4 separate regions of the Homo sapiens genome follow, and all the other regions are linked to region 1. Evidence: fine-mapped expression QTL. A gene starts in region 1. Each other region holds a variant in brackets. All regions are shown on one strand. Distances are between the middles of the regions.

Region 1 (8,122 bases):
ACCTCCCAGGTTCAAGCAGTTCTCCTGCCTCAGCCTCCCAAGTAGCTGGGATTACAGGCACCCGCCACCACACCCAGCTAATTTTTTGTATTTTTAGTAGAGATGGGGTTTTGCCACACTGGCCACACTGGTCTCGAACTCCTGACCTCAGGTGATCCACCTCCCTTGGCCTCCCAAAGTGCTGAGATTACAGGTGTAAGCCACTGCACCCGGCCTAGGGCAGATATTTCTACAGCATCATCAAACATTTTCTGAAGTCCTGGTATGAAGGCAGGCCTACTATACTCATCACATACCAGGGAGGAGTTAGCTATATAGTAGATATTGGGCTGACAACTCAATAAACCATTAAGAAACAGCAGGAAAAAACTTATTCCTGATACTCTGTATCCCAAGATATTCATGATATCTTAGACCAGGAGCTGGCAAACTGTGGTCCTCAGGCCAAGTCAGGCCCCACTGCCTGTTTTTGGAAATGAAGTGTATTGGGACACAGCCATACTCACTGGTTTTAATGTCTGTAGTTGTGTTTGCTCTATAAGGGCAGAGTTGGGTAGTTGGTTACAAAATCTAAAATATTTACTAACTGGCCCTTTACAGAAAAGAGAGGGAGGGAGAGAGACAGACAGACCAACTGACAGACCATGGTTATTAAACCATTAACCAGGTCTCTCTCTTTTTTTAACAGAATCAGAATATGTAACTAAAGGTAACTAGCATGGACTCGACAATGCTCCATGTTAACTATTTTCCTTCTAGGTGGTCACTGGCTTTCTCATCTTCCTTGTCCTCAATTTTCTGTTAAATTCTAAGTCAATACTATACAAATGTGGTCCAGGTTGGAGCCAGTCTACAAACTGTTTGTGACCAGTCAGGGATGAGATAAGCAGTGACTGAGAGTGTTTAGAAACTTTTATGGCAATTTGACATTTATTCAACATCCGAGCACATAATTTTATTAAAGTATCATTCCATACAGATTGGAATTTAAAAAACAACAACAACAACAAAAAAAAACCAACAACCACCCATCTTTTAGTAGGACTAAAGTGGTGAGATCTCAAGAAGGCAATGATGATTCATGTGTATGTATGTGTGTATATACACACATATATACATATATGTATTTATTTGAATATATGTATATACTTGAATATTTGTATATATTTCAAATAAATCCAAATTCTAACTTTTCATCTATGAGTGAAACTACTGTCCTGAGCATGTATAGAAAATCAGTTCTATGCTGCCTCCTTGTGGTATCTTACTTGCAGTGAGTTTTAGCAGCAAGTCCTAAGTGCATTTGAAAGAAAGGGGTTAGCAGATAAGAAAAATAAGGTAATATTAACTACTCTTTTTGAAATAAGTATTTTCCATGAATCTTTTGAAGTGCTCTCATACAATTCATCTCTTGTTTCCTCATCACAAATCTCAAAGGTAGGCCAGGCACGGTGGCTCACACCTGTAATCCCAACACTGTGGGAGGCCAAGGCAGGCGGATCACTTGAGGTCAGGAGTTCGAGACTAGCCTGCCCAACATGGTGAAACCCCGTCTCAACTAAAAATACAAAAATTAGCCAGGCGTGGTGACAGGTGCCTGTAATCCCAGCTACTCGAGAGGCTGAGGCAGGAGAACTGCTTGAACCCGGTAGGCAGAGGATGCAGTGAGCCCAGACTGTGCCACTGCACTCCAGCCTGAGTGACAGAGAGAGACTCTGTCTCAAAAAAAAAAAAAAAATCTCAAAGGTATGTAGGAGGAGAGAGTTTATCACTGTAGGTACATGCAGCAGAAGATATTTATATCCTTTCCAAACACCTATATATGTAGACTGAAAAATTAAAACAATTGACTATGAAAATCAAATAAGGCAATGAATATGCCATTTTAAAAGAATCTTACTCCTATATTAAGCATACACAACTCTAGAAAAACTGAGCATAGAGCATACGTGGTCATAGCCAACATGTTTACTTTCATTAGTTTTATAATAAAGGAATATTTAAAATGCATAAATCTTTGTTCTAGCAATTCTACTTCCGGGAATTTTTTCTACCAATATACACACATACACAGAATTAGGTAATTCATCACGACACTGTTTGCAGTAATTCTAAGTTGGAAGGTCCAGAACAGTGTTTATGTATCATTTGTGTAAAAAGAAGCTGACACATACAGATAAATGTATATGAATGTATATATGCACAGAATATACGTGGAATAATGCAAAAGGAACTGGGGGAGACAAAAATGAGAAAGTGGGTGGAAAGGTAAACTTAACACACTTTGATATCTGTTGAATTTTGTACTATCTACATATGTTACTGATTAAATATAAAAAATAATATAAAAAGGGTATTATGCAGTATAACAGAATAGGTAGCTTAGACATCAGATAGACCTTGATTTAAATTCTAGCCCCCCTGCTTTTTTTTAAATCTTAAGCTGAGCTTCTGAGCCTCCTTGCTCATCTGTCAGATGGCCATCAAGTATGTGAAAACACCCAGCAAATAAAAAGTGCTTAAAAAATTATCAGAAGGGAAACAACCAGGATAAACTTCAGACTGAACCAATATTTATAAGACCTGCCTACTCCGCGCCAGGAACTGCACTTGGCAATTCGGTCTTCACAACAATCCTGTGAAGTAAAAACGGTAACCTCACTGGACAGATGAAGAAAAGAAATCTCCTGGCGTGCGTGCAAAAGGTGGAAAGAAAATTAGAGGATTCCTAAGGTGTAACTCGGCAGCCCAAGGATTCCACGAAAGTGAAGCCCACCTGTGGAGACGGCAGTGGAAGCTGAGAGAAGACTATGGTCAGAGTCGTGGCTTCCCTTGACACAGTCACAGCTGCCTCATCTGGGGGGTGGCCGAAGAGGAGGCAGGTGCCAATACGTTAGTGCTGCACGGACTTGGAAGACTTCCCTTACCGACCGAGACTTCTCAAAAACACTTCCCGAATGTCGAGGTTAGAATTCTATTTCACCCTCTCAGGTGCTGAGGTGGGTAAGGTACCTCACAGAAAGGATGCAGCGGGGGAGAGCAGTCCCCTCCGTGGGGGACAGCGGGAGGAAAAGGGGTCGGGACGCTGGAGGAACTGAGGCAAGGGGAGCCCGGAAGGAGGCGCACTCACTGAGTCTTCTCCAGAACATCTCTCGATTAAACTCCTCGGTGGTCTCCTGGGCTTCGCCGACTTGTGGGTGTGGCGTGTGGGGGCCGAACGGTGGCGAATGGAAAAGCTGAGGTAAGCGGAGCCACCTCCCTCGCCCAAGCCCGGCTCCCCGCCGCCGCCCCAGCCCGCCCTCTCCGCGACCCCGAGCCCGGCCTCTCCCCGACCCCGAGCCCGGCCTCTCCCCGACCCCGAGCCCGCCCCTGCCGTCGCCCGTTCTAACTCCGTCAGCTCACCCCGCACTCGAGGCAGGAGCAACCGCAGCTCCTCCGCCAAGTGCCGGAGCTGCTCCAAAGGCGAAGCCAGGGTGGGGACTGCGGCTGCAGGTGCAGTTGCGCTCGCCATCTCAGTCGCTTGCCGAAGGCCGCAAACACAGGCCTCCGCTGCCACTGCCGGAGCCGCACTGCGACAGCCGCTCCACTTCCGGGCCACAGCGTCAAGGGCTCGTTTCCGTCAACAAGCCGTCCAGCCCCGTCCCAGAGGCCCTGCCCTGCCTCCTCCCGCCACGAGGCCCGGCCCCGCCCGAGGTCCAGCACCACCCATCCCGTTATCAGAGACCAGGCCTGGCCCCGCCTCCTCCCGCCCCGCCCTGTCCCCTGAGGTACAGCACCAACCATCCCACTCTCAGAGGCCAGGACAGGCCACGCCTTCTCTTGCCCCTTAGGCCAGGCTACACAAGCAAGCCTCAGGCTCACCGTCTTTCTTATTCATCATTCATTCATTTATTTGATTAGTTGAAAACACTTCCGACTAAGGAAGCAGAGAGCCCACAATCCTGTGGGAAAACAGGCCTGGGAACTAATATCTCAGGGGTAGTGAGGGTCGGGCCCAGATCCTCAAAGGTTCCCTGCCCCTGAAATTGCACCTTTGACAGCTGCTGAATTCCAAGCACAGCGGTAAGTGCTTTACATGGGGTAACCCTAAAAAACACACTGGGCCTCAGACACTCCCGTACACACACCCAACCTCTACCCTGTGGATGTCCTAGATAAGGGTTTTCTCTTCACAAAGGTAAATCAACTCTTTGCCTCCTTAGGGAGGGAAGGAATAAAGGCATTATTTTTGAGACTTTTCTGCAGTCCATTCTGCAGGTATCAGTAGTGGGTAATCCCTCCAACGTCCAGGACTCCAAACGAGCAGCTGCTCCCTAAAGCTCACCCACCAATCCTGGCCCTCCACCTGCTACTGGGGTAGAGGCCTGGGCTACAGACACAGAGGCTGGGCTTCTGCCCAGCTGCCAGTGGTGAGACATGGCCTTCAGGAGCTCAGGTGGCTTTTTAACTGCACCATGAAGATTCCAAACTTGGTGGAGTTCAGTGTCCACACATAACGAATGAGAACAGGTGTCAGCAGTGTCAACCAGGTCCGCAAAGGGGAGAATAAAAAAGCTAGGGTGCCGTATGTTGCATAAAGAAAGTAGCAGGAATAAACCTGCCAGATGTACAGCAGTAGCATAAGTAGGTGAACAGGCATAATTTTCAAGTATTTTCTTTGATGGAGATGAGACCTGAAGTTGTGACCAAAGCACCGCTGCAGCAAGCTCCAACACATGTAAGCCATCAAGGGGATGTTAAAAAACGCCAGCTGGAAAAGAACAGAACCATAGCTTACTCCCAAGTCCTTGGAAGAGTTTGGTCTTAATAATGCATTATTAGTGGATCCTAAGACTATGCTGCTATCTGTCTTGGCGTTAGCTAATTTACTTCAAGCACAGTTGCTTATAACACAACAGCTGACTTGTGGCTAGTTGTGTATTTGCCCATGTCCTTTTATTCATCTTAGAGGCAGGTATCATTTAATTTATGCTGAAGTCCCAACTTGTAGTACAGTATCATATACACAGTTAATACCCAATGGTGTTAAGCTGGAATTGAACTGAGTAAATGTATACACACACATACAACAACCCCTCTTTTTTGGTGGAGTGAGGGGAGGACTTGGCTATCAGTATTTTTTTTCTTACCTCCATTTTTGTTTGAGGTAGCATGATAAGTACTGGAATATAAATTAGAGTATCTAAATTATAATCCAAGTTGAGCTGCTGTATGATTCATTCATTTAACAAATATTTATTGAGCACCCATTATGTAGCAGGCATGAGCTAGGCTCCAAGTTGGGGACACAATGGCAAACAAGTTAGAAAAGGTCCGTCATAGAGCTTACATTCTAACAGGGAGAAGACAGACAAAAAAAAAAACCAAAAAATATAATTACAGATCGTGATTAGTTCAATGAAGGAAAGAACTGGGTCATGAGAAGGTAACTGGGAGAAAGGCTCTCAGAGGCCAGAAGGACAAGAATGAATCAGCGGAGGGAAGTGCATTCTAGGCAGAAGGAACAAATGAAAAGCCCAGAGGTGGGAGAGGTCTTGGCCTCTTTAAGGAAGTGCATGCAGAGCATGAGCCAGGTGGAAATTGGGGCAGTCGGCAGGACCCAGATCACTGCTCTGCTTCAAAGCATTTCAAGCTGAAAAGTAAGTGAGCTGATTGTAAAGTTTTTAAAAGAGCACACTGGATGCTCTGTATTAAGCTGAGAGTAAGGAGGCAAGAATATCAGGGAGAAGACCCAGGCAAGAAATAATTACAACTTAGATTAGGAAAACAGAAATGGAGAGAAGTGGATGGATTCAAGATATGCATTGGAAGCAGATCAAATAAGGTAGAGCTTGCTGGTGAAATAGATACAGGGTATGAAGGAAAGGGAATAATTGAGGATACATCTTGGAGAAATCAGGTGAATGGTGGAGTCATTTATTAAAACTGGAAAAACAGAGAGGAACAGGTTTGGGGTGGAAATAATGTTCCTATCAGAGAGACATCACATGAAGTTGAGATGCCTGTTAGACATCTGTGGCCATTGGATATAGAGGCACTTGAAGTGCAGAGAAGAGGTCTAGATCAGAGATATAGATTTGGGATTCATGGGTCTGGATGATACATAAAATCCATTATTAGTGTACTATTTATTAGAATATGAATGTAAACATTTACAAAGGAAAAAACCCTGCCTTTTGGTAAGGCTCAGGATTCATTTGGTATGAGAGAGCTCCTTAGAGACAGCCTCCATCAACATAATAGAAAACTGCAATGAGGCTGGGTGCAGTGGCTCACGCCTGTAATCCCAGCACTTTGGGAGGCCGAGACGGGCGGATCACCTGAGGTCAGGAGTTCGAGACCATCCTGGCCAACACAGTGAAACCCTGTCTCTACTAAAAATACAAAAATTAGCCGGGCATGGTGGCAGGCACCTGTAACCCCAGCTACATGGGAGGCTGAGGCAGGAGAATCACTTGAATTAGGGAGGCAGAGGTTGCAGTGAGCCGAGACGATGCCATTGCACTCCAGCCTGGACGACAAGATCGAGACTCCATCTCAAAAAAAAAAAAAAAAAGAAAAGAAAAGAAAAGAAAACTGAAATGAACCCAGGACCTACTCATGTATATAATGCTGCTATGCAGAGAATATTCTGGACTTGGGTCAGTGTTTGCTAGGCAGAAGTCTTTCCTACTTGGCTGTCTCTAATCCTGTTGGATCATGTTCTACTGCCCTGTTAGAAGGCCATGAACTTATTTTGAATGTTTTTGGATCTCTTCCAAAACTTCAAATTTTGGTCCACTAACTCCATTAGGTGAGTAAAATAAAGAAACTGTTAGATAAATACTTTTCAAATCTGTTTATGTAGTTTTTCTATGGATCAAGGTTCTTTGTGTGTTTATTTTAAAGGAATCAAATGTAAACCTAATACATCAGTTTGTTTCCTAAACAAGTACATTGCTAGGAAAGCCCAGGTCTGGTTTTTGAATAATGCAGTTTCCACTGAATAACTGACCCATTTTTTTAATGTGTCTATTTTTTAGTTTCCTCCCTCTAAAATATTTTCCTTCTTCATCATCATAATCAGTTTTGGTTTACTCAGAAATCTAAAACTTTTTCTACCATAATCCCTTGTTTCATTTTTTTGTCAATGAAAAAGCACAGTGAAACAAAAACAACAAAAACTTCTTTCACCTCTTATAAACACTTCATGACAAAAATGTATTTTAGGCTAGGCATGGTGGCTCACGCCTATAATCCTAGCACTTTCGGAGGCCAAGGCAGGTGAATCATCTGAGGTCAGGAGTTCGAGACCAGCCTGGCCAACATGGTGAAACCCTGTCTCTACTAAAAGTGCAAAAATTAGCCAGGCATGGTGGCACATGCCTGTAATCCCAGCTACCCAGGAGGCTGAGGCAGGAAAATCGCTGGAACCCAAGAGGTGGAGGCTGCAGTGAGCCAAGATTGCACCACTGTGCTTCAGCCTGGGCGACAGCAGAACACTGTCTTGGGGAAAAAAAAATGTATTTTAGATGTTTACATGAGAGTGGTGGAAGGAGTTTAGGAAGCACTTTAAAAGCAAATGAAGCTTTTATTAAAGACTGCCCTGCAAGTAAAGTAGGAAAGATGATCTATGGTACTTAATTCTGGATTTTGGATTTAATTCATAACTGTTATGCAATTAGTCTGACAAGTCCAAGATGTTCTTAAATTGCTTTTCTGACTTCTTACCTGGAGAATTCCAATTATAAATGTTATGCTGCCTTGTAGGAAATGTCCATTAACAAATATCCCAAAGGAAAAGCAGCAACCAAATTTGCCATCAATGATTTCACCAAAAAACCATGGACCTAAAAGAGGCAATGGACAAAAAAGGAGGAGATTAAATAACTATAATTCTGATTACATATATCATGAGATACATTTATAGGAATAAAGCAGAGATATGAGACTAGCCATCTATAAGCATTTTATTTCATAGCCTTCCCTCTTTGCTAGTCTCTGTGTTGTACTTGATATCCTTGCTAACCAACTATTTTTTGGATTGTGAAATTGTCTTAGTAGACACTATACCTAGAACAGATATGTGTCTTATAGATTCTAGAAACAAAAAAAGCACACTCACATTTTTGAAAATTCCATT
Region 2 (8,144 bases), 86 kb before region 1:
CTGCTCCGCGGCTCTATAGTTTTGACTTCTTTCAGTCTTCCCTTCCCTTCCCCTCCTCCTCTCCCTCTTTCTCTCCCTCTTCTTCCTCCTCTTCTCCCTTTTCCTCCCTTTTCCTGCTCTCCTTCCTCCTCTTCCCCCTCCCTCTCTTCTCTGTATTTTTTTGTTTGCCCCTAGTCCTCCTTCTCCTTCCCTTCTATTTTCTCTCTCTCTCTCTCCTTTTTTTTTTTTTTTTTTTTTTTTTTTGAGATGGAGTCTGTCACTGTTGCCCGGGCTGGAGTGCAGTGGTGCGATCTCGGCTCACTGCAACCTCCACCTCCCGAGTTCAAGCGATTCTCCTGCCTCAGCTTCCCAAGTAGCTGGAATTACAGTTGCCTGCCACCATGCCCAACTAATTTTATTTTATTTTTTGTATTTTTAGTAGAAACGGGGTTCCACTATGTTGTCCAGGTTGATCTCAAACTCCTGACCTCGTGATCCGCCCTCCTTGGCCTCTCAAAGTGCTGAGATTACCGGCGTGAGCCACTGCACCCGGCCTATTTTCTCTCTTGGGGTGGCCCCCAGCCCTGCCTGCACGCAGCTGCTTGGGTCAGGAAGGGTAGGAGCCTGCATGTCCTCACTCCGCCTCATGTGTCAGCTGCACCCATCCCCATGAGGTACCATTGGGCATTTCCGTGGTGCCCTGTCACTGCCCTGTCATGCTGTGTTCCAGGTGGCTCCCTGCCATCAGGAGAGGGCCACCCGAGCTGCCCTTGCAGGAATGTGAAACCTCGCCTCTCTGCCAAGCACTGAGTCCTCATGTTTAGTCACGGCCCTCCTTTCCTATCCCTGGCTGTGTCACTGGAGAAGAACAGCAGGCAGGCTTCCTACTGGCCTGGGAAAGACCTCTCAGGGGTATGTGGATGTTGGTCATTTCTGCCTTTCCAGCCTACCTTTCAAATTATTTTCCCTGTCCCCAACTAAAAATTGACTTTAAAAATTATTATACTCTGGGCCGAGCATGGTGGCTCACGCCTGTAATCCCAGCACACTGGGAGGCTGAGGCAAGCTGATCACCTGAGGTCAGGAGTTCGAGACCAGCCCAGCCAACATGGTGAAACCCCATCTCTACTAAAAATACAAAAAGTAGCTGGGTGTGGTGGCGGCACCTGTAATCCCAGCTACACGGGAGGCTGAGGCAGGAGAATCTCTTGAACCCAGGAGGCAGGGTTTGCAGTGAGCTGAGATCCCACCAGTGTACTCCAGCCTGGGGAACAAAAGTGAAACTCCATCTCAAAAAGAAAAAAAAAAATTATACTCTGTATCCTCCCCCAACCCCCTCCCCTCCTCCTCCTTCTCCTCCTTCTTCGTTTCACTTAGGCAAGCCTGTCTGGCTTTCTTTTTCCACCTCAGTTGAATAAACTAGATCATCTCAAAGCTCCCTTCCAGCTGGACATCCCCCAGGGCCTGGAACGCTGGAATTCCTTCATGCCCACTGCTATGGTGCCCCCTGAGACCAGCTCCTAAGCAAGCCTCCCCTGGCCTCACAACAACAGAGTAAGGCTGGCCACCCAGGCCAGGCAGTGGCTCCTGCAGACAAACTGTGACAAAAGAAATGTTCCACTGTGGAGCAAGGAAGCAGCACCAGCCAGGCAGCACCCTTGGCTCCTGATTCCTGGTCTTCCCATCCCCCCATGGTGTGCACAGAATCTGTCATCTTCAGGTCCTTGTGGCTGATGGTTTTGGGGTTCACGACATCCAGCATTATTGTGTGATACAAAGCAAAGAGCTCTGGACTCCCTCATGGTGTGACCCTGGTTCCCCCAGGGGTAAAATGATAACATAATAATAGGAGTGTCAGCCTGACTTTCCCTCATAGGGTTGCTGTGAGGATCAAATGAGGCAGTGTATTCTAAAGTGCTTTGCAGCCGGGCACAGTGGCTCACTCTTGTAATCCCAGCGCTTTGGGAGGCCAAGGCAGGAGGATCATCTGAGGTCAGGAGTTAGAGACCAGCCCAGCCAACATGGTGAAACCCCATCTCTACGGAAAATACAAAAAATTAGCCAGGCATGGTGGTGTGCACCTGTAGTCCCAGCTACTCAGGAAGCTGAAGCAGGACAATCGCTTGAACCCGGGAGGTGGAGTTTGCAGTGAGCCAAGATTGTGCCACTGCACTCTAGCCTGGGCGACAGTGAGACTCCATCTCAAAATAATAAATAAATAAATAAATAAAGTATTTGTATATATAAAGTATACATAAATAAGTATGTATATTTATTTTACATAAAAAATATAAAGTATTTGTAAGCTGGAGTCATCACATTATTTAACTTCAAACTATACTACAGGGCAACAATAACCAAAACAGCATGGTACTGGTAGAAAAACAGGCCTATAAACCAATGAAACAGAATAGAAAGCCCAGAAACAAGGCCCCATACCTACAACCATCTGATCTTTGACAACACTGACAAAAACAACCAATGGGGAAAGGACTCCCTATTCAGTATATGGTGCTGGGATAACTGGCTAGCCATATCCAGAAGATTGATACTGGACCCCTTCTTTACACTGTATACAGAAATCAACTCAAGATGGATTAAAGACTTAAATGTAAAACCCAAAACTATAAAAACCCTGGAAGACAATCTAGGCAATATCATCCTAGACATAGTATCAGGCAAAGATTTCATGATGAAGATGCTGAAAGCAATCACAACAAAAGCAAAAATTGACAAATGGGATCTAATTAAACTTAAATGCTTCTGTACAGCAAAAGAAACTATCAACAGAGTAAACAGACAACCTACAGAATGGGAGGAAATATTTGCAAACTATGCATCTGACGAAGATCTAATATCCAGTCTCTATAAGGAACTTAAACAAATTTACAAGAGAAAAACAACCCCATTAAAAAGTGGGCAAAAGACATGAACAGACACTTTTCAAAAGAAGACATACATGTGGCCAACAAGCAAATGAATAAAAGTTCAATATCACTGATCATTAGAAAAATGCAAATCAAAACCACAATGAGATACCATCTTATCTTACACTAGTTAGAATGGCTATTATTAAAAAGTAAAAAACAAACAAACAAACAAAAAACAGATGCTGGCAAGGCTGCAGAGAAAAGGGAACACATATACACTGTTAGTGGGAGTGTAAATTAGTTCAGCCATTGTGGAAAGCAGTATGGTGATTCCTCAAAGAGCTCAAAACAGAACTACCATTTGACCCAGCAATCCCATTACTGGGTATATACCCAGAGGAATATAAATCATTCTATCATAAAGACAAATGCATGCGAATATTCATTGCAGCACTATTCACAATAGCAAAGACATAGAATCAACCTAAATGCCCATCAATGACACATTGGATAAAGAAAATATGGTACATATATACCATGGAATACTATGCATCCATAAAAAAGAATGAGATCATGTCTTTTGCAGGAATGTGGATGGAGCTGGAGCCCATTATCTTTAGCAAACTCACACAGGAACAGAAAACCAAACATCTCATGTTCTCACTTAGAAGTGGTGAGAGCTTATGAACACAAAGAAGGAAACAACAGACACTGGGGTCTACTTGAGGGATGAGGGTCGGAGGAGGGAGAGGAGCAGAAAAAAGAACTATTGGGTGCTAGGCTTAGTATTCAGTGGTGAAATAATCAGTACAACAAACCCCCTTGACATGAGTTTACTTATGTAACAAATCTGCACATGTACCTCCGAACCTGAAATAAAAGTTTAAAAAAAATTTTTTTAATTGAAGTGCTTTGTAAATTGTGAAGTGCACTCACAGAGGCCCTCTACCAGTTTAATCCCTTCTCCAGGGTGACTGTCTCTGTTTCTAGGGGTGAGAAAAGAAGGGGAAAGAGGAATCCATTGGCGTCTGCCAGCTGTGGCTTCCCTGTGCAATCGTCTGTGGGGCACCTCCTCACCCTCCCTCAGACCCAGGCATCCAGCCCGTCACAGCCTCTGATTTTATAGGCAAAGAAACTGTCACCTGCCCAGGGGCACAATGGAAATTCATGGCAGGGCCGGAATCAGCACCCAAGTCTCTCTGGGTCTTAGAAAGGTCTGACCCCATCTGTAAAATTAAAGAAAAAAAGGAAGTTCTGGAGGTTCTCCACCCCCACCTAGTGAGCACTGGCCTGCCCCATGCGGATGGCAGATGTGTCCTCACTTCTCTGTTCAGGTGTCCCTCCCCTGTGGGCACAGCCCTGCTTCCTTCC[G/A]GACAGGAAGGTGCTCATCAACCCTGCTTAGCCTCCCTCTCTCTCCCTGTCCCCTCCCCTGTGCTGAGGGACAAGCTGCTCTATCAGAGCTGCCTCCCTCTCCCCAGCACCCTCACCCACATACCCTCTGACTAATGGCTCACAGAAATCGAATGAGGGGCTGAACCTATAAACCAGCTCCCTAGGCCCAGAGCCCAGGTCTTATTCAGCCCTACGGTCCAGGCAGAGGAGCTGGCCAGGGTTTTCCTGACCCTATGAATGGGCTTCGTGCCCCTGCGGTGCTTCCGCCTCCTCTCTTGTCCAGTGGCTACCTTAAACAAGACTTCTCTAAGTGCTCCTGAACATGTGAGGTCTTTTGGGGGAGGCCCAGGCCCTCCACAATGGGTGTGAGTTCCCTGCCCTCTCCTCAAGGTTGGGGCATGGGCAAAGCTGCCAAGAGTTCAGCCACTCAGGCTGGCACAACTCAAGGGACTTTACTCAGAGTGACTGCCTGATTGCTCCAAAATCCTCTCAACTGTTCCCAGATGCTTCAGGCTGGCCTGGGCACCACAAAACAGACTGGTGTCCCGCTGGCCATTGGGCACTTTCTCCTTTGGCCACCACAGTTACCCTAGCTGCACTTACCTTCCTGTTCCCCCTCTCCTGCCTATGCCCCTTACACTCTCCTGCCTATGCCCCTTACAGTCTCCTGCCTATGCTCCTTCCTCCTTCCCAGCTAACCCATCTCAGCATGTGGCAGTGGGTTCAGGTATTCATCCATTTGTTTATGTAGGGACCATCTTTTAATTCATTCACTCTATCGGGCAAGAAATACGAACTGGAAAACCAACTATGTTCCAGATATTGCAGCAAGCAAGCACTTATGAAGCACCCAGGCTCTGGAGTCTGACGGCTGCATTCAAAATCTAGCTCTACCAGTTCTTTGTGAATGATCTATTTAATGTCTTTAAGCCTCGATTTCCTCATCTGTAATGTAGGAACAATAACAGTAACTAACTATAGGGATGTTGTAAGACCAAGTGGGGTCATGCATATAAATACCTCAAAATAGTATATGTTATTAAAAGCTACTGCTGGTTGTATTAGTCGTTCTGCTACTATTAGGCACTGTCATTCTTAAGCACTGGGAACGCTGTTAATAAGACACAGTCCATGCCCTCCAGGGTGATTGGGGGAAAGACAGATAAGTATTTATAATGTTGAGGCATGAGTTGGCTAATAGGAAATACAGAAGAAGCAGCCCCTATTAGAATCCGGGTGCAGCAGAGGAAGGGTGTCAGGAAGACTTCCTGGAGGGGTGATGCTCGAGCCTGGGTACCAGAGAAAGTAGAGTGAGAGGAGGACATTTCAGAAAGAGAGAGGCTGATGCATGCAAGAGAGAGGGAGAGAGGGAGGTGCGGGAGAGAGGAGGTCAGCCTTCCTGGCCTCCAGGTGGGGAGGGGAAGACCCTCAAGGCTTTGAGGGTGATGCTGAGAAGTCTGGACTTTACCCACTGTGGGATCTTAAGCAGGGGAGCAACCTGATGGAATTGGCACTTCAGAAAAATCACTGGTGACTCATTTGGAGAAAGGGTGAATGGGAAACTGGTTAGGAGTTGTCCAGGTAAGCGGGGGCTTCAGTGAAGGCAGAGCAAGGGGGGCACCGTTTCAGGACAGCATCAGGAATTGGGCTGGACTGATGGGCTAAAGGGAGATCAGGAAGCTGGAGAAGTACAAGGTGGCACGCAGGTGTCCCCTGAAGTGATGGATGGACAGTGTCCTCACTCATCAAGACCAGACGTGCAAGAGGAAGGGCAGGTATTTTGAGAGGAAGGAGCAAGGGGAAGAGTTCCATTTGGACTCCTTGGCTGTGAAGTGTCCAAGGTTTCCCCCAGAGGAGCTGTCCAGCAGAGGGTGCCGCAGTACACAGTTCTGGGGGTCCCCAGTGTCACGCGGGAGCCAGTGGAGTGAGAAGAGAGGAGATGGGGACAAATCCCTGGGAGGCACCAGTTCAAGAAGGGAAAGTCTGTGATGGGGACTGAGAGGAAGAGGACAGTGGGGATAAGGAGGCAGCTAGACAACCAAGAGAGAGAAGTCACCTAAGCCCAGGAGGAGTGGACAGTACCCGCAGGGCTGCAGGAGGCCTTGCAGGGTAAGAGCAGGAAAGGCGCCCAGAGCCCAGCCCTCAGAGCTGGGAGGTGAGCGTGGCGTCGAGGCAGCCGTGGGACAGAAGGCAGTCTGCAGCAGGTGAGGGGTGGTGGGAGGCAAAGCAGTGGGCAAGGAGCTTGGCTGAGAAGTGGAGTTGAGAGAAAGGGCAGGGGCTGCTAGGGAAGCTGGGGATGAGAGTTGAAGGTGGATGTGCTGTGTTAAAATAGTGAACTGCATTTGTGCACATATACCCTATAAGAGGTGAGTGGGGTGTGGGCCATGGGCTGCCATGGTCAGTGAAGTATACCAAGATGGCTGGGTGAAAACTTGCTCTAAAAACCATTGACTGGGTAGCTTTTGCAGAGATGATACCCCAAAACCAAAAGGCCATTGCTAATTATCTGAAATCCTGGAATGAGACCCTCACCTCCAGGCTGGCTACTTTACCTGAGAATCCACCAGCTATTGACTGGACTTACTACAAGGCCAATGTGGCCAAGGCAGGCTTGGTGGATGACTTTGAGAAGAAGTTTAATGTCCTGAAGCTTCCTGTACCAGAGGATAAATATACTGCCCAGGTGGATGCTGAAGAAAAAGAAGATGGGAAAACTTGTGCTGAGTGGGTGTCTCTCTCAAAGGCCAGGTTGGAGAATATGAGAAACAGCTGGAGAAGATGAGGAACTTAATACCATTTGATCAGATGACCATTGACGACTTGAACGAAGCTTTCCCGGAAACCAAATTAGACAAGAAAAAGTATCGCTATTGGTCTCACCAACCAATCAAGAATTTATAAAATTAAGTCCAGGAAGAAGCCCTGGCCCTTATAGTACACATTCTGGACATTAAAAATAAAAATAATTACATAGGTTTTAAAAAAGAGCTGAGTGGGGACAGAGAGAATTGAAAATACAGGAGGGAGGACAATGCTGGTGAAAGAGGTTCCCCAGGGAGAAGGACCCAGAAAGCAGGGGATGTGGGGAGAAGTGCCCCAGAGCACAGAAAGACAGGGTAGGCATGGGGGTCCCACCCACTCCACAGGCAGAGCCCTTCCCCCTCCTGCCCTCTCTCTCCTTCCACCTGCGCTTTTCTCCCTATGAAAGGGCTTGTGCCTTTCTTACTAGGATCAAGGCCCTTGCTCACCGGCATTCCCACCCTCTCACCTATTTCCACACCTCCTCCACAAATCTTCCCAATTTTTCTTCCTCTATTTTATTTGTGATTATTTGCTTTTATTTGTGATTTGTCTTGGACCTGCCAGGTCTCATGCAAGACAATGCCACTGCCAAAGCTAAATACAGTGAAATCATACCGAAGGAGATCCAGACAGAGAGGGTTCTGTTTGCATTTAATGTTCAGGAAGTGACTTTTCAGGATAAAAGAGAGGCCTTGGTTACCTAGCAGGGTTCTCGGCTCAATGAGGTGCTTTAAGCTGTGAGCAGAGTCTTGGGACCCTGATGCTCCTTCCAGCAGCCCCCTGCATCCCTCTGGCGGGCCCATCAGCTCGCTTCTCCCTCCTGACTTCTCCACCACAGCACAGCACCTCCCTGGGAATGCCCTATTGCTCAAGAGCTATCAAAGGCCCACACGGCATAAGGCTGTGACAGTTCATCAGCCTCCACACCTCCTTTCAATTCAGCAACACTGCCAAGAAAAACCTGAGGGCAAGTGAGCAAACCAGTTGTGATCTGCTCGGTAATCAGGTGGCAGTGCAGCAGTCCAGCCCCGCCTTCGGTTCTCCTGGAGGCTTCCAATGGAAGGGGAAGTAGACACTCTGGCACCAGTTTGCTGAAGCTCC
Region 3 (8,000 bases), 860 kb after region 1:
CTGTAGTATCTATTAGAATTTCCTTCGTTTTAAAGGCTGAATAATATTCTGTTGTACGTATATACCACATTTTGTTTACATATTCGTCTGTCAATGGAGTTGCAACCCAAGCAGCTTGGGTTGCTTTGACCTTTTGACTACTGTGACTAATGCTGCTATAAACATGGGTGTATAAATATCTTTTCAGGTTCCTGCTTCCAGTTCCTTTGGGTATATACCCACAAGTGGAATTGCTGGATCATACAGTAATTCCATTTTTAAATTTCTGAGGAACTATCATATTGTTTTCCATAACAGCTGTACCATTTTGCATTCCTACCAACGGTGCACAAAGATTCCAATTTCTCTACATCCTTGCCAACACTTGTTATTTTGTTTTTTTTTTAAATAGTAGTCATCTTAATTATGTAAAATGGGATTTCACTGTGGTCTTGGTTTGCATTTCCCTAATGATTAGTGGTGTTGAGCATCTTTTCTTGTGCTTGTTGGCTATTTGTGTATCTTCTTTGGAGAGATGTCTATTCAAGTTCTTTGCCCACTTTTTAACTGTTTTTTTTTGTTGTTGCTGAGTTGTAGGAGTTTGTTATATATTCTGGATATTAACCCCTTATTCAAAAACTTGTAATGTTTCCAAATGCATACAAAGCAGTTTACACAAAGGTCCCAACCTTTCTGGTCAGATCCTCCACTATTAGAACCCTCACATGCCTGGCTGTCAAACTTGCCTGTGCACTGCTTTCCGAACACCCCTAATGCTCCTTCCTCTGGCTGCATTGCCCTCTTCCCTCTCCCTGCTTACTCATTAGTTAGGGACATGCTTCAGGGCTCATCTAAAATGCACTTCTAGGCCAGATATGATGGCTCACGCCTGTAACCCCAGCACTTTGGGAGCCTCAGGTGGGCGGATCACCTGAAGTCAGGAGTTCAAGACCAGCCTGGCTAACATGGTGAAACCCCATCTCTACTAAAAATACAAAAATTAGTTGGCCATGGTGGCACATGCCTGTAATTCTAGATACTCAGGAGGCTGAGGCAGGAGAATTGCATGAACCCAGGAGATGGAGGATGCAATGAGCTGAGATCGCACCATAGCACTACAGCCTGGGTGACAGAGTGAGACTCTGTCCCCAAAAAAAAATTAAATAAAAAATAAATAAATAAAATAAAATGCACCTCTGGAACAAAGCCCTGCTTAAGTCTTGAGGATACAATCTTCTCTTTCTTGGCCTGCCCCTACCCTGACCTTTCTTTGGCCCTTATGTTACTTTCCTGTATTGTAGTTGGATACTTGCCTTTTCTTCACTCACTGTAAGACCACAAGGAGCTCATCTCTGTATACCCTTCAGCACTACCATAGCATCTTGAAGGTTCAAGGCCTCATTAAATAACTACTTATTAAGGACAGAAGATCTGGAGTCAGGCAGACCATGGTTCATATTCTTGCCATGCTATTTATTCACTGTGTGCCTTTGTGTAAATTTTGAAACCAGTCTAAGCCTCAGCTTCTTCATCTAAAATATGGGGTAACAAGACCTACCTTATAGTTTTGTCATCGCTGGATGGAATAATGTGTTTTATCATATTGTCTAGCCCATAACAGCTTGATATATGGTAACTATTTATTAATTGGGAAATTAGGAGTTAACTGGATGGGCTCTGGCTGTCTGTGAAAAGCCTGGTGGGGAGGTCAAAGGAATGGGTTGAAAAGTCAACCTTACTTTCAAGGAGAGGGACTTTATTCACTCACATGATACACATAGGGTTTCGCCCCCCTTCTCCTCTCTCCATTTTCTTCTCTCCTTCCATCTTTTCATTATTGCTATTACCACCACCACCACTCCTGGAACTGGAAAGCAGCATTATACATGTTCCAGGGGCTTCTCTCCCTCCCCATTTTCTATTTCCGTTCTTTTCTTGGCCAGATTGACAGGTGGAGTCCACCAGGGAAGCATGCAGGAAAAACAGTGTAATAAAGAATTTGATACCATATTTGATATTTGACTTTTAAGCGTTTTCAAGCCCTGCTACTCCCCCCTTACCCTTCGGCCCGTATCTGGACAAGCTGACAAAGAAAGCTCTAGTGCCCCCTCCTTTGGTGCCAGCAGGGGGTTCAAACTATCTAAGCCTCAGCCTGCGTGCAAGAGCCCTTGCCCTGTCCCCACCCGCTAACCACCATAAAAGCTGAGCCAATCTCCTTTCTCAGTTCTCTCAAGCCATTTTCAAACCAGCTTGGGAGCCACCCCTGCTCTCCCCAGAAAGCCTCATTATATGAGTAATAAACTTTTTAATATACTCTTAGTGCAAGTGTGGTGTCACCAATTGAGACATGGAAACTAAATTTTGAGTGGGGGGATCACATTACTACAGGGTGGCCACAACAAACGGAACTGAAAATGCTAGACCCCTTCTTCATTATGGTGACCTAGATAACTAAGCCAGGAATGGATGGGGTCATCACCTTTTTACCATTCACTTTCTCTCTTATCACAGTGACAATTATATTTGAATCTACTATTTTCACAGCCATTTTTTATCAGATGTTTCTCCACCACTGATGTGCCAAGGCAAGTCTAAAACATTTTTTAAAACTCTGTAATTAAAAGGTTCAGAAATGTTGGCTTATTTTACCTTACGCTTTTTGCTCCTGAGCAGCTCTTGCATCCTCTTGGGGTTTGGGAATCTGTTTTTGTCCCAGGTGAAGTACCTCTTGCCCTCAGTGTGCTCTATGTCCAGCCACATGGCATCATAAGGAATGTCATGCTCATCAAACCCTGCATCCACTGCTTTTACATCCTGCTCATCTTCATAGTTCCAGCGGCACTGGTGGTATCCCAAAGAGAAAAGAGGGGGCATGGCTTGTGTGCCTAAAAGAGGGAGATGACAACTGAGTCAACTGCCATGGCAATGACCATTATTCATTTGATAAACATTTCCTGAATGTCTACAGAGTATTCAGCACTGAGCTTATGCTTAGAATAACAAGGAGAAGAAAGCACAGTCCTTGCCTTTAAGGAAGTGACAACCTGGCTAATGAGGCAGGAGTGTAAATAAAGTGCTCTGCCCTGAGGTATAATTGCCAGGTTAAGCATCAGTTTAGTGCTACCAGAACACAGAGAGGTTAATAAATTCTGCCTGTGGTGAAGTATAGGGTCTTGAAAGGCTTCACAGAGGAGATAAAACCTGGTTTGGACCTTGTAGAGTTAGTGGGAATATACCAGACAGGAAGAATAGATAGAGCATTCCGGGCACAGGGAACAGAAAAAACACAGAGGCAAGGAAGTACATGACAGGCTTACAGAAAAATAAATATTCAAGGGTATCACTGTGAGAGAGACCAGTAGAAGATGAAACTGAATAGGGTCAGATTGTCAAGGGCCCTGTAATTGAGGTTAGGAATTCTGAATCTTGTCTTATGAGAAGCCATCAAAAGTCTGGCAAGATGTAATCTTAGCAGACCTATATTTTAGAAAAATTAAGTCAGGGTGCAGCATTGGGACTCACTTAAAGGTAAAGAAACTGAAGTTGGGAAGAAGTTTCAGTAAATTATTATCAAAATGTTTACTGATAACGTGAAGGACTTCTGGTCAACCACTTGCATGTATCTCCTTCCCCTCCTAAAGTCACACTAAAATCTGAGTAAAGAGAAGAAAAAAGGAAGAAAGCCACAAAAACAAAGAGAATGGGAGTGGAGTAATTTCAACAAAAATTTGGCAGGTGGCAGGCAGGAGCAGGGTGGTAACTGTTGGCCAAAGCCAGGGAAGCTCTCCCCAGAGTGGTATTGAGGAGGCTATTGACAGAAGAGCTCACCCTGCTCCCAAACACCAGTAGACATGCCCACTCTCAAAACTAGAGTGGAAGCCTCATCTAGGCACACAGAGCCTCACCATGAAATATGAATGGAGGCAGGTGTGGTGGCTCACACCTGTAATCCCAGCACTTTGGGAGGC[C/T]GGGGTGGGTGGATCACTTGAAGTCAGGAGTTCGAGACCAGCCTGGCCAACACGGTGAAACCCCGTCTCTACTAAAAATACAAAAATTATCCAGGTGTGGTGGCGGGCACCTGTAGTCCCCACTACTTGGGAGGCTGAGGCAGGAGAACTGCTTGAACCCAGGAGGTGGAGGTTGCAGTGAGCCGAGATTGCACCACTGTACTCCAGCCTGGGCAACAGAGTGAGATTGTGTCTCAAAACTCACATTTGAGCAAAGTCTCCAAAATCAGAGACAGTGACTCAAATAAGGAAACAGAAAAGGATCTCCAAGAAAACAGGAACAATGCAAGGAACCAAAGTAAATATCAAAACATTATCATTAGTATCTCTAGAGAGATGAAATAAGGTATTATACCCTTAAACAAGACTAGGATAGCATAAAACAAGTGTAGGTTGAGTATCCCTAATTTGAAAATCCAAAATCTGAAATACTTTAAAATCTGAAACTTTTTTTTAAAATTAATTAATTAATTTATTTTTAAGATGGAGTTTAGCTCTGTCGCCCAGGCTGGAGTGCAGTGGCACGATCTCAGCTCACTGCAACCTCCGCCTCTGGGTTCAAGCGATTTTCCTGCCTCAGCCTCCCGAGTAGCTGGGACTACAGGTGCATGCCACCATGCCCAGCTAATTTTTGTACTTTTAGTAGACAGAGGGTTTCACCATGTTGACCAAGCTGGTCTCAAACTCCCGACATTAGGTGATCGCCCATCTTGGCTCCCCAAAGTGCTGGGATTACAGTCATGAGCCACCAAATCTGGCCTCTAAAATCTGAAACTTTTTGAACACCAACATGACACTCAAAGGAAATGCTCATTGGAGCATTTTGGGCTTTGGATTTTCAGATTGGGATGCTCAACCAGTAAGTTTAATGAAAATATTCAAAATAATCCCAAAACTGAAACACTCTAGAGTCCCAAGCATGGAATACTCAACCTGTATACAATTTATAAAACAATAAATGTCATTTAACGTGGTGTGCTATTTTGAATTCCTCATCAAGTTTTAGAAGTGGGGTAAAAATACTTAGAAGATCTCAGTGCTTTGGAAGGCTAAGGCAGGAGGATTGCTTGAGACCAGGGGTTTAAGACTAACCTGGGCAACAGAGCAAGACCCCATCTCAACAAAAAAATTAAAATAAATAAATAAAAAGAATTAGCTGGGCATGTAGCACATGCCCACAGTCCCAGCTACTCAGGAGGCTAAAGCGGAAGAATTGCTTGAGCCCAGGAGCTAGAGGCTGCAGTGAGCCATGGTCACGCCACTGCACTCCAGCCTGGGCAACAGAGTGTTTTTTGTTTAAAAACAAAAAAACAAAAAAGAGGCTCATCAGACTTGAAATTATACAGAGCAGCATTGATCATGAGTTTGTCTGACTGAAACAGGTTAAATAAATTATGTTACCAGCAAATTTGCTACTTGAAAAAAATAGGATGTACACATTTCAGGATAATAAATGTTTTGCCATTGCTTTGCATAAAATGAAAACAAAAACCAAGGAACCATCAGAGGATAAGAAAGAGCTCCTTGAAAGCAGAAACATGATAGCATAAATGGAAAGCCTAGAAGATAAAATTGAGAAAATTGCTCAAAAACTAGGCAAAAAAGGAAAAGGAGATTATAAAATCCGTAGAGTAGAAAGAAAAAAAGGAAGGGAAAAATTAATCTAAGGAATAATACAAAACAGTTTCTCAGAACTGAAGGACACAATTCTCAGGATTGAAGGGGTCCACATCTAACATCCAGAACAATAATTATTTTAAAAGACCTAGGGCCAGGCATGGTGGCTCACACCTGTAATCCCTGTAAAGCACTTTGGGAAGCTGAGGTGGGAGGATCCCTTGAGCCTAGGGTTTTAAAACCAGCCTGGGTAACCTAGGGAGACCCTGCCTATATAAAAAATGAAAAAATTAGTTGGGCATGGTGGCACATGCCTGTTAAGTCCCATCTACTCAGGATTCTGAGGTGTGATGATCGCTTGAGCCCAGGAGCTTGAGGCTGCAGTGAACCATGATCACACCACTGCACTCCAACCTGGGCACAGAGCAAAACCCTGACTCAAACAAACAAACAAAAGATCTCCATCAAGGGATTTTATTACAAAATTTCAGAATACTGGAAATTTGGAATGTTAGTGATAAAGAGAAGGTATTTCAGAGAGAAAAGATAGATTATATACAGAGGAACAAAGGAATAGAATTAAGAATGGTTTTGGAGCAAGAAGGTAGAAGACAGTAAAAGAAATGCCTTCAAATTCTGAGAGAAAGAATATTCAGTCTTGCCAGGCAAATTATCAGCCAAAGGTAAAGGTAGGAAAAAAGATGGTTTCATACCTGCAAGGAAGCAAAAAGAGTACCTCCAATGCAAATGTTCTTAGGAAACTACCAGAAGATGCTACAAACAAATAAACACAGCAAGGGAATAAACCAGAAAAGAGAAAAACAGGGAACTGAAGAAAGGAGGGATACAACACCAGAAAACAGCAAAGGTAAGTTCTGAGATGAAAGCTGTGCAGGGAACCTAGAGAACAATGGTCCAGATGGGAGGAGGAAGATGAAGAGCTCTGGTAGGGAAGGAAGTCTCCAGGGAAAGAAGTAGACTGGATAAAGTAACAGACACCCTTGAGCATGTGAAAAATGTAAACATTGAATATTGATTTAACCAAAAATTGTGATATAACTAGATTGGATGGGAGACGGAGGAGGGTATGGTATATGATTGAGCTAAACCCTCAGCAGGAGTCAACAAATAATCTTTACTGTCTTTGAACATGGTGGGAGATCCAGTATTTTGGAAGTGCTTTATCATAAACCAGCATTCTCACTAATAACAATGTTGAATGTAGCTGCAGGTGGGCTTTGATAGCACTTATTCCTGCATGGGTGCCCATATCCATAAATTGTCATTCCTCCCATCACAATTGGAACTGAACATGGGCTAGACTTAGCTTGCTTTTAACAACTGAATGCAGCAGAAATGATGCTGCAATACTTTTAACAGCTTTACTGAATTCACGTACCATGCAATTTACCCATCTAAAATGCACAATTTAATGAGGGTTTTTATGGCATATTACATTATTGATTCTTAAAAATTGTGTTAAAATATATATAGCAAAATTTGCCATTTTAACCATTTCCAAGTGTCCAATTCAATGGCATTAATTACATTCACCATGTAGTACAAGCATTACCACTATTTCTAAAACCTTTACATCACCCCAAGCAGAAACTCTGTAATCATTAAGCAGTAACTCCCTAACACTCACACCTCTCAGCCCCCTCTCATCTCTGTCTTGACAAATTTGCATATCATAGCTACTTCATATAAGTGGATTATATAATACTTGTCCTTTCGTGTCTTATTTCATTTTCCATATTTTCAAGGTTCATCCATGTTGCAGCATGTATCAGAACTTCATTTCTTTTTATAGCTGAATAATATTCTGTTACATGTATATACCACATTTTGTTTATGTGTTCATCTTTGATGTGCACTTGGATTGTTTCTACCTTTTGGCTATCATGTGTGGGCGAAGGATTACCCAGGTGCCGAGGCAAGAGACTGAAGGCACAAACTGTAGCAGTATAATAAAGAAAATAGTTAGAATAAAGAATAGTTATAATACAAATTAGATATAGAGATGATCATGGACAATTATCAATCATTAGCGTAAACATTATTAATCATTAGCTTTTAATATTACTCTTTGTTGCATTACTAATATAACCTAGAATAACCAGCGGGTATAGGGTCAGGTACTCAAGGGACATTGTGAGAAGTGACCTAGAAGGCAAGAGGTGAGCCCTCTGTCATGCCCGCATAAGGGCCGCTTGAGGGCTCCTTGGTCAAGCGGTAACACCAGTACCTGGGAAGGCCCCGTTAATTAGCAGATAGTGAAAGGGAGTCTCCTTTCCTTGGAGGAGTTAGGGAACACTCTGCTCCACCAGCTTCCTGTGGGAGGCTGGATATTATCCAGGCCTGCCAGCAGTCATCTGGAGGCTTAAACCCCTCCCT
Region 4 (8,144 bases), 470 kb after region 1:
GGACGCAGAGGTTGCAGTGAGCCGAGATTGTGCCACTGCACTCCGGCCTGGGCACAACAGAGAGAGACTCCATCTCAAAAAAAAAAAAAAAATTTGTAAAGACAGGATCTCACCCTGTTGCCCATGTTGGTCTTAGACTCCTGGGCTCAAGTGATCCTCCCCTCTGCGGCCTCCCAAAGTTTTGGGATTACAGGCGTGAGCCCCTGTGCCCGGCTTCTCTCATCTTTAAAACCCTCCTCTTCACTCTCCTGCCCTTCACAGATAAGCTTCTTGCAACCAGTCTCGCTGTTTGCCATCTCCCACTTCTCACTGACTTCTGAACCCACCCTAATCTAACATTTGCCCTCGTCACTCCTCCAAACAGCAGTCACCAAGGTCCACGGTGTCCGTGTGGCTGGATCATGTAAATAACTTCTGTCCTACATTTCCTGAGTCTCTCAGCAAGCTTTGACTTAGCCAGTCTCTCCCTTTCACTGACAGAATCACTTCCAGAGGCCCCGGCTTCTCATCTCTCTGAGTGGTTTTTTTTTTTTTGTTGATACATCCTCTTCAACTGTTGACATTTTGGGATTCTTTCAAAATTCAGGCCTAGGCCCTATTTTCTCACTCCATAATATATTCCTAAGTAACCTAATCTGTTCCCAGTGCTGTACAAAAATAAATATCCAAAAATTATTGGATACTGACTTCCAAAAATAAATATCCATAAATTAATCAATAAGTACTGCTGAGACAAATGGGCAGCCATCTGAAAAAAAAAAAGATTGCATCAGAGACCCATTTCACAGACATACCAAAATGGATCCTTTATGCTTTATGGATCAAAGATATACTGGGAGATGGAGGAGTATAAAAGTATTACAAGAAAATATAATTCAAAAGATAACTGTGCCTGTAGTACAGTTGCCTGGGAGGCTGGGCGGGAGAATCCCTTGAGTCCAGGAGTTTGAAACATGAGCCACTGTACCTGGCCTCAAAAATGGTTTAAGAAATTCTCAACAATTGAATCAAGGAAGAAATACAAACAGAAAATGCAAAATTATATTAAAAATGAAAATACATGTCACAAGCTATGGAAAATGGCTGAAGCAATGCTCAGAGGGAAATTTTTAGCTTTAAAAACATCCATGAAAAGAAATAAAAATAAATGAATTAATACTATGAACTATATGCCAACAAATTCAATAATGTAAATTACTGACTCAAAAGTTAAACTGACTCAAGGAGAAATAAAACATCTTAGTACAGGCCGGGCGGGATGGCTCACGCCTGTAATCCCAGCACTTTGGTAGGCCGAGGCGGGTGGATCACGAGGTCAGGAGATCGAGACCATCCTGGCTAACATGGTGAAACCCCTGTCTCCACTAAAAGAATACAAAAAAATTAGCCGGGCATGGTGGAGGGCGCCTGTAGTCCCAGCTACTCGGGAGGCTGAGGCAGGAGAATGGCGTGAACCCAGGAAGCGGAGCTTGCAGTGAGCTGAGATCGCACCACTGCCCTCCAGCCTGGGGGACAGAGCAAGACACCGTCTCAAAAAAAAAAAAAAAAAAAAAATCTTAGTGCATATTTTATTTACAAATTTAAGATACTAAATTAGTGATCAAAGAAAATTTCAAGATAGCTTCATTAGTAAAATCTACCAAACGTTTAAGGAATTAATACCAATCCTTCCCAGATTCTTCCAAAAATCAGGAGGGAACACTTGCCAACTCATTCTATAGGGCCAGAATTACCCTGACACAAAAACTGGGCAAAGACATCACAAGTAAACTATAGAGTAATATCCCTTATGAATACACACACACAAATCCTCAACAAAATACTAGTAAACTGAAATCTAGCAACACATAAAAGATCATATATCACGAGCAAGTAGGATTTATCACAGAAACACAGGGCTGGCTCGACATACAAAAATCAATGCAATACACTATATTAATAAAAGAAAAGACCCAGTAAGATTATCTCAGTAGACACCAGAAAAAAGTATTTGACTAAATCCAGTACCTTTTCATGATAAAAATATTCAAAAAACTAGGAATATAAGGGAATTTCCTCAACCTGATAAAGGTCAGCTATAAAACATGCACAGTTAACATCATACTTAATGGTGAAAGATGGATACCTTCCTCCTCAAATCAGGAGTAAGACAAGGACATCGGCTCTCACCACATCTAATAAACAGTGTACTGGAGATTCTAGCCAGCACAACTGGCAAGACAAAAACAAAAAAGGCAGATGACATGATCTTGCATATAGAATATCTTAAGGAATCTATTTTAAAAAACCATCAGAACTAATAAATGAATTCAGCAAGGGTATAGGAGACAAGAACGATATATAAAAATCAATTTTATTTCTGCATAATAGCAATGAAGAAACTGAAAATGAAGTGAAAACAATTCCATTTATAATACTGTCAACAGGAATAAAATACTTACGAATAAGTTTAATAAAATAAGCATAAAACTTATACTCTGAAAACTTCGAAACATTGTTGAAATTAAACCTAAATAAACACAATGACATCCCATATTCACAGAGCTAAAGACTTAATATTAAGATAGCAATGCTCCCCCAATTGATCTACCCATCAAAGTAATCCCAATGAAAATCCCAGCTGACTTCTTTGCAGAAATTGACAAGCTGATCCTAAAATTCATATGGAAATCTGAGAAACCCAGAATAGTCAAAGTAATCTTGAAAAAGAACAAAGTTGGAAGATGCCTACTTCCTGACTTCTAAAGGTACTACAAAACTACAGTAAAGAAGACAGTGTGAGGCTGGGTGCAACAGCTCACACCTGTCATCCTAGCACTTTGGGCGGCTGAGGTGGGAGGATCGCTTGAGGCCAGGAGTTTGAGACGAGCCCAGGCAAGATAGCGAGACCCTGTCACACACACACAAAAAGTGTGGTACTGGCATAAGGATAGATATGTAGATCAATGGAATAGAATTAGGAGTCCAGAAATAAAGCCATATGTCTATAGTCAACTGATCTTTGACAAGGGTGCCAAGACAATTCAATGGGGGAAATAATAATCTTTTAAACAAATGTTGTTGGGAGAACTGGATATCCATATGGAAAAGAATGAAATTCAACCCCTAGCTCTCACCATATGTAAGAATTAACTCAAAATGGGCCAAAGAATGCAATGTGGAAGCTAAAAGCATAAAACTCTTAGAAGAAAACATAGGCATAATCTTTGTGATCCTGGATTAGGCACTCGTTTCTTAGATATGAAACCAAAGCACAAGGAACAACAATAAAAAATAAACTGGACATCATCAAAATTAAACTTTTGGCTTCAAAGGGCACTATATCAAGACAGTGAACAGACACAAAGAATGGGAGGACATTTTCTGTGAATTATATATTTGCTAAGGGACTCTTAAAAAGACAAATAACCGAATCTTAAAATAGACAAAATATCCTGCTAGATATTTCTCCAAAGAAGACATATAAATGGGCAAAGGCACATTTATATATATATTATATATTATATATTATATATTATATATATATATATAATATATATATATATATAAAAAGATGCTCAACACCATTAGCCATCAGGGCAATGGAACTGAAGCCACATAAGGTACTACTTCCGATCCACTAGGACAGCTATAATCAAAAGTAGGTCATAGCAACTGTTGGTGAGGACGGAGAGAAACACACTGCTCATATACTGCTCGTGGGAAGGTAAAATAGGACAGCCACTGTGAAAAACAGTCTGGCAGTTCCTCTATGATCCTGCAACTCAACTCTAGATACATACCCAAGAGAAATGAAAACATATCCATACAAAAGCTTTACAGGGATGTTCATAGCAGCAATATTCATTAGTAGGCAAAAAGCACAAAACAACCTAAATGTCCATCAACTGAAGAATGGATAAATAAAATGTGGTTTATTCATATAATGGAGTATTACTCGGCCATAAAAACGAATGAAGCTCTCATATATTTTACAACATGAAGGACCCCTTGTTGTGGGTTAAATCACTGTCTCCACTGAAAATATGTTGAAGTATTTTCCCAGTATCTGTGAATTTGACCTAATTTGAAAATAAGGTCCCTGCAGATGTAACCAAGTTAATATAAGATAGTACTGGATTAGAGTGGTCCCTAAATCCAATGACTAATGTCCT[T/A]ATAAGAAGGCTATGTGGAGCTGGGTGCAGTGGCTCACGCCTGTAATCCCAGCACTTTGGGAGGCTGAAGCGAGTGGATCACCTGAGGTCAGGAGTTGGAGACCAGCCTGGCCAACATGGTGAAACCCCGTCTCTACTAAAAATACAAAAAATTAGCGGGGCGTGGTGGCGGATGCCTGTAATCCCAGCTACCTGGGAGGCTGAGGCAGGAGAATTGCTTGAACCCAGGAGGCAGAGGTTGCAGTGAGCCGAGATCGTGCCACTGCACTCCAGCCTGGGTAACAGAGCAAGACTCTGTCTCCAAAAAAAAAAAAAAAAAGTTATGTGGTAGCTTACGATGGTAATTTCAGCACTTTGAGAGGCTGAGGCGGGAGGATCACTTGAGGTCAGGTGTTGCAGGTAAGAATGAGCTGTGATTGCACCACAGCAGTCCAGTCCAGGTGACAGAGACCCTGTCTCTTAAAAAAAAGTTAAATTAAAAAAAAAAAAGAAGGCTATGTGAAAACACGGGGACAAACAGACAGGGAGACAGACACACACACACAGAGAGAGAGAGAGAGAGAGAGAGCGCACAAGTGAGAGCAAGAATGTCATGTGAAGACAGAGATAGAAATGGGAGTGAATGCCAAGGATTGCTGGTAACCCATCAGAAGCCTGGAAAGAGGCTTGGAGCAGATCCTTCTCCCAGGAGCTTTCTGAGGGAGTATGGTGCTGCTAACACCAACATTTTGGACTTCTAGCCTACAGAACTATGAGAGCATAAATGTCTGTGGTTTGAAGCCACTCTGTGAGTGGTAATTTGTTACAGCAATTCTAAGAAACTAACACAATCCTGAAAACATTCCGCTAGGAGAAAGAAGCCATCAAAAAGGATCATATATTGTGTAATTCCATTTATATGAAATGTCCAGAATAGGCAAATCCATGGGGACAGAAAGTAGATTCGTGGTTGCCAAGGGCTGGGGAATGGTGAATTTAGGGAATAACTAGGGGGGTAATGAAAATGTCCTAAAATTGGTGATGGATACACAACTCTATGAATATACTAAAGCCAATGGATTATAACAATAAAAAAATCAATTAAAGAAGTGCTCAAGGGCCAGGCACGGTGGCTCACGTCCGTATTCCAACACTTTGGGAGGCTCAGGCGGGCAGATCCCTTGAGCCCAGGAGTTCAACACCAGCCTGGGCAACATGGTAAAACCCCATCTCTAGAAAACAAAAATACAAAAGTACCCGGGCATGGTGGTGCACACCTGTACTCCAGGTACTCAGGAGGCTGAGGTGGGAGGATCACCGGCGCCCAGGGAGGTCGAGGCTGCAGTGAGCCATGATTGTGTCACTGCACTCTAGCCTGGGCAACACGGCAAGACCCTGTCTCAAAAAAAAAAAAAAAAAAAAGACAGGGCATGTCAAAAGGACACAAGACCCAAGCTGAAAGAACTCCAAATAATTAAAGCTGGAACAAGTTGAACAATGAAATTAATAATGACAGTACTGTATTGAATTACGCCCCAAAGAATATGATTCCAAACTGAAAAAAATTAAATAGTTGAATAAATTAAGTGGCGGAAGAAGGGACTGCACTTTCTTAGAGAAAAGTTCCAATTAATAAATGTAGAATAAATGAGGGAAATACAAAATTCCCTAAAATATCACAGTAATAATTTTTACAGGTAAGATACACCAGTAGACACTAAAATCAGTGGATGAAAGTTTGAGGAAAAACAGGATTTTCCATCATCTCCAATATTTTTTTGGGGGGCTGCTGTGGGGCATGGAGTCTTGCTCTGTCACCCAGGCTGGAGTGCAGTGGCGCCATCTCAGCTCAATGCAAACCCCGCCTCCCGGGTTCAAACTATTCTCCTGTCTCAGCCTTCTGTGTAGCTGGGTCTACAGGCGTGTGCCACCATGCCTGGCTAATTTTTGTATTTTTAGTGGAGACGGGGTTTCACCATGCTGACCAGGCTGTTCCTGAACTCCTGACCTCGTGATCCGCCCGCCTCTGCCTCCCAAAGTGCTGGGATTACAGGCGTGAGCCACCTTGCCCAGCTAGTCTCCAAGATTTTTTGAGACAGGGTCTCCCTCTGTCCAAGGCCAATGATGTAATCATGGCTCACTGCAGCCTCCATTCCCCTCCAGGCTCAAGCGATCCTCCCACCTCAGCCTCCCAAGTAGCTGGGACCACAGGCATGCACCACCAACATAGCTTTTGTGTGTGTGTGTGTAGAGATGGCGTATCACTATGTTGCCTAGGCTGATCTCAAAATACTGGACTCAAGTGATCCTCCTGCCTCAGCTTTCCAAAGCACTGGGATTACAGGCGTCAGCCACCACATTCAGCCATGTTCATTAATCATAAAGGACAATATAGCAACATTCAGTGGAGAGACCCCCAACCACCACCTTAACATCAAAGTTCACATCACCAGAAACAGGACATGTCGGTATCCGGTAACCTCTGATACAATGCACCGAGAATAAGGTATTGCATGAGACATACTTATACTATAAAACTATTTGTTGTCTAAAATTTGAATTTAACTAGCATCCTGTATTTTTCTTTGCCTAATCTGTCAACCTTCAGAAGGGCAAATCACTTCTATGGTATTTTTTTTGCCAAAAACGCATAACTTCAATCCAACCATAAGAAAACCACAGACACGATCCTTTTGTAGTTCGTAAGCATGACGATCGGGTTTTCACATACATGTCTCAGAAGTGCCTCTCTCAAACCTTGTTACGTCAGCACATTACCTGTCTTACATGAAAAAAAAAAGAAAAAAAGCAAGAAACAGCAGATAAATACATTCCAAAAAATTACTAACCACGAAGCAAGAAAAGACTGAGAAACTATCACAATAGGAAAAAGAAACTGATAACAACATACACAGAAATGAATAAGTTAGAATCAAAAGGGGCTCCAGGAGAGATGAAATATCTAAACCAAAGGCTGGCAAAACTTTTTCTGTGGGGAGCTAGATACTGAATATTTAAGGCTTTGTGGGCCATTTGAGTAGCTGCAGCTACTCAACTCTCTGCCACTGTAGTGGGAACACAACCATAGAAGACATGTACATGAATGGGCATGACTGTATTCCGGTAAAACTTTATTTACAAAAACAGGAAGCAGGCCAGATCTGGCCAAAGGGCCATAGTTTGCTAACCCCTGATCTTAACAGACCATCTTCCATTGAAGAAGTTTTTCAAATAACTAATCCCCTACTGAAACACCAAGCCTTGTCAATTTAAAAGGATTATTATATCAAACTTTAAAAGATGATTCAAAAGAAATTTTTTTTTTTTGAAACAGGGTCTTGCTGTGTCACCCAGGCTGGAGTGCAGCAGCATGGTCACAGCTCACCACAGCCTCGACTTCCCAGGCTCAAGCAATCCTCCCACCACAGCCTCCTGAGTAGCTAGGACTACAGGTGTGCAGCACCACCCTGGCTTTTTTTTTTTTTTCTATGTTGCCCTGTCTGGACTCAAACTCCTGGGCTCAAGCAATCCTCCTGCCTCAGCCTCCCAAAGTGCTGAGATTACAGATGTGAGCCACCGTGTCTGGCTCTCAAATTTTTTTACTTTTCATCCCCATTTCACACTCCCATCCAAATCATTCTGATGTGCTTAGAGTGTATCTTTTTGTTTGTATGTGTTCTTGCAAAAAGTGATTGTTGTGTATGTTGTATTTATATACTGTATATGTTGTTTAATTCACAAATAGTAATATATCTCATCTTATGGGCGGATCATGAGGTCAGGAGTTCAAGACCAGCCTGGTCAACATAGTAAAAGTCCGTCTCCACTAAAAATACAAAAAAATAAGCTGGGCATGGTGGCAGGCACCTGTAGTCCCAGCTACTGGGGAGGCTGAGGCAGGAGAATTTCTTGAGCCCAGGAGTCGGAGGCTGGAGTGAGCCGAGATCGTGCCACTGCACTCCAGCCTTGGCGACACAGCAAGACTCTGTCTCAAAAAAAAAAAAAAAAAAA

Direction of the effects. Alleles are on the strand shown, and positions count from the first base shown. SD is a standard deviation of normalised expression in the study named. Not every link is listed here.
For the expression in monocytes of the gene that starts at base 3,607 in region 1, C is the low allele of the variant in region 3 and T is the other (large effect, 0.78 SD a copy in Fairfax 2014).
With allele A in place of T in region 4, the expression in thyroid of the gene that starts at base 3,607 in region 1 is higher (moderate effect, 0.63 SD a copy in GTEx).

Evidence for each region. PIP is the estimated chance that this variant, and not a neighbour inherited with it, causes the effect. A credible set is the group of variants that fine-mapping cannot tell apart.
Region 2: its variant is the best candidate, but not a certain one, in a credible set for the expression of CCNDBP1 in whole blood (TOPMed, PIP 0.83).
Region 3: its variant is the best candidate, but not a certain one, in a credible set for the expression of CCNDBP1 in monocytes (Fairfax 2014, PIP 0.87).
Region 4: its variant is the best candidate, but not a certain one, in a credible set for the expression of CCNDBP1 in thyroid (GTEx, PIP 0.54).

Annotation. Positions count from the first base shown.
Region 1 is chr15:43,180,888-43,189,009 of GRCh38, reverse strand. CCNDBP1 (cyclin D1 binding protein 1) reads right to left here and starts at 3,607. Exons shown (of 11, transcript NM_012142.5): 1 at 3,403-3,607; 2 at 3,131-3,190; 3 at 2,777-2,856. The coding sequence starts at 3,511. TMEM62 (transmembrane protein 62) reads right to left here. Exons shown (of 14, transcript NM_024956.4): 13 at 7,711-7,829; 14 at 3,866-4,750. The coding sequence ends at 4,424. It overlaps LOC124903478 (a long non-coding RNA gene), which reads left to right and starts at 3,123. Exons shown (of 2, transcript XR_007064604.1): 1 at 3,123-3,241. RefSeq lists an enhancer at 3,002-3,101 and silencers at 3,272-3,361, 3,582-3,881.
Region 2 is chr15:43,266,902-43,275,045 of GRCh38, reverse strand. It overlaps TGM5 (transglutaminase 5), which reads left to right and starts at 8,118. Exons shown (of 13, transcript NM_201631.4): 1 at 8,118-8,144. It also overlaps the pseudogene ATP5PDP1. The variant G/A (reference allele first, on the strand shown) is at 4,221.
Region 3 is chr15:42,316,649-42,324,648 of GRCh38, reverse strand. GANC (glucosidase alpha, neutral C) reads right to left here. Exons shown (of 24, transcript NM_198141.3): 11 at 2,629-2,864. Among named protein-coding and RNA genes, the nearest start is that of CAPN3, 39 kb to the left of the region's middle. The variant C/T (reference allele first, on the strand shown) is at 3,948.
Region 4 is chr15:42,707,469-42,715,612 of GRCh38, reverse strand. All of the region lies in intron 26 of STARD9 (StAR related lipid transfer domain containing 9), which reads right to left. LOC124903605 (small nucleolar RNA U13) reads left to right here and starts at 6,821; the gene lies at 6,821-6,921. The variant T/A (reference allele first, on the strand shown) is at 4,155.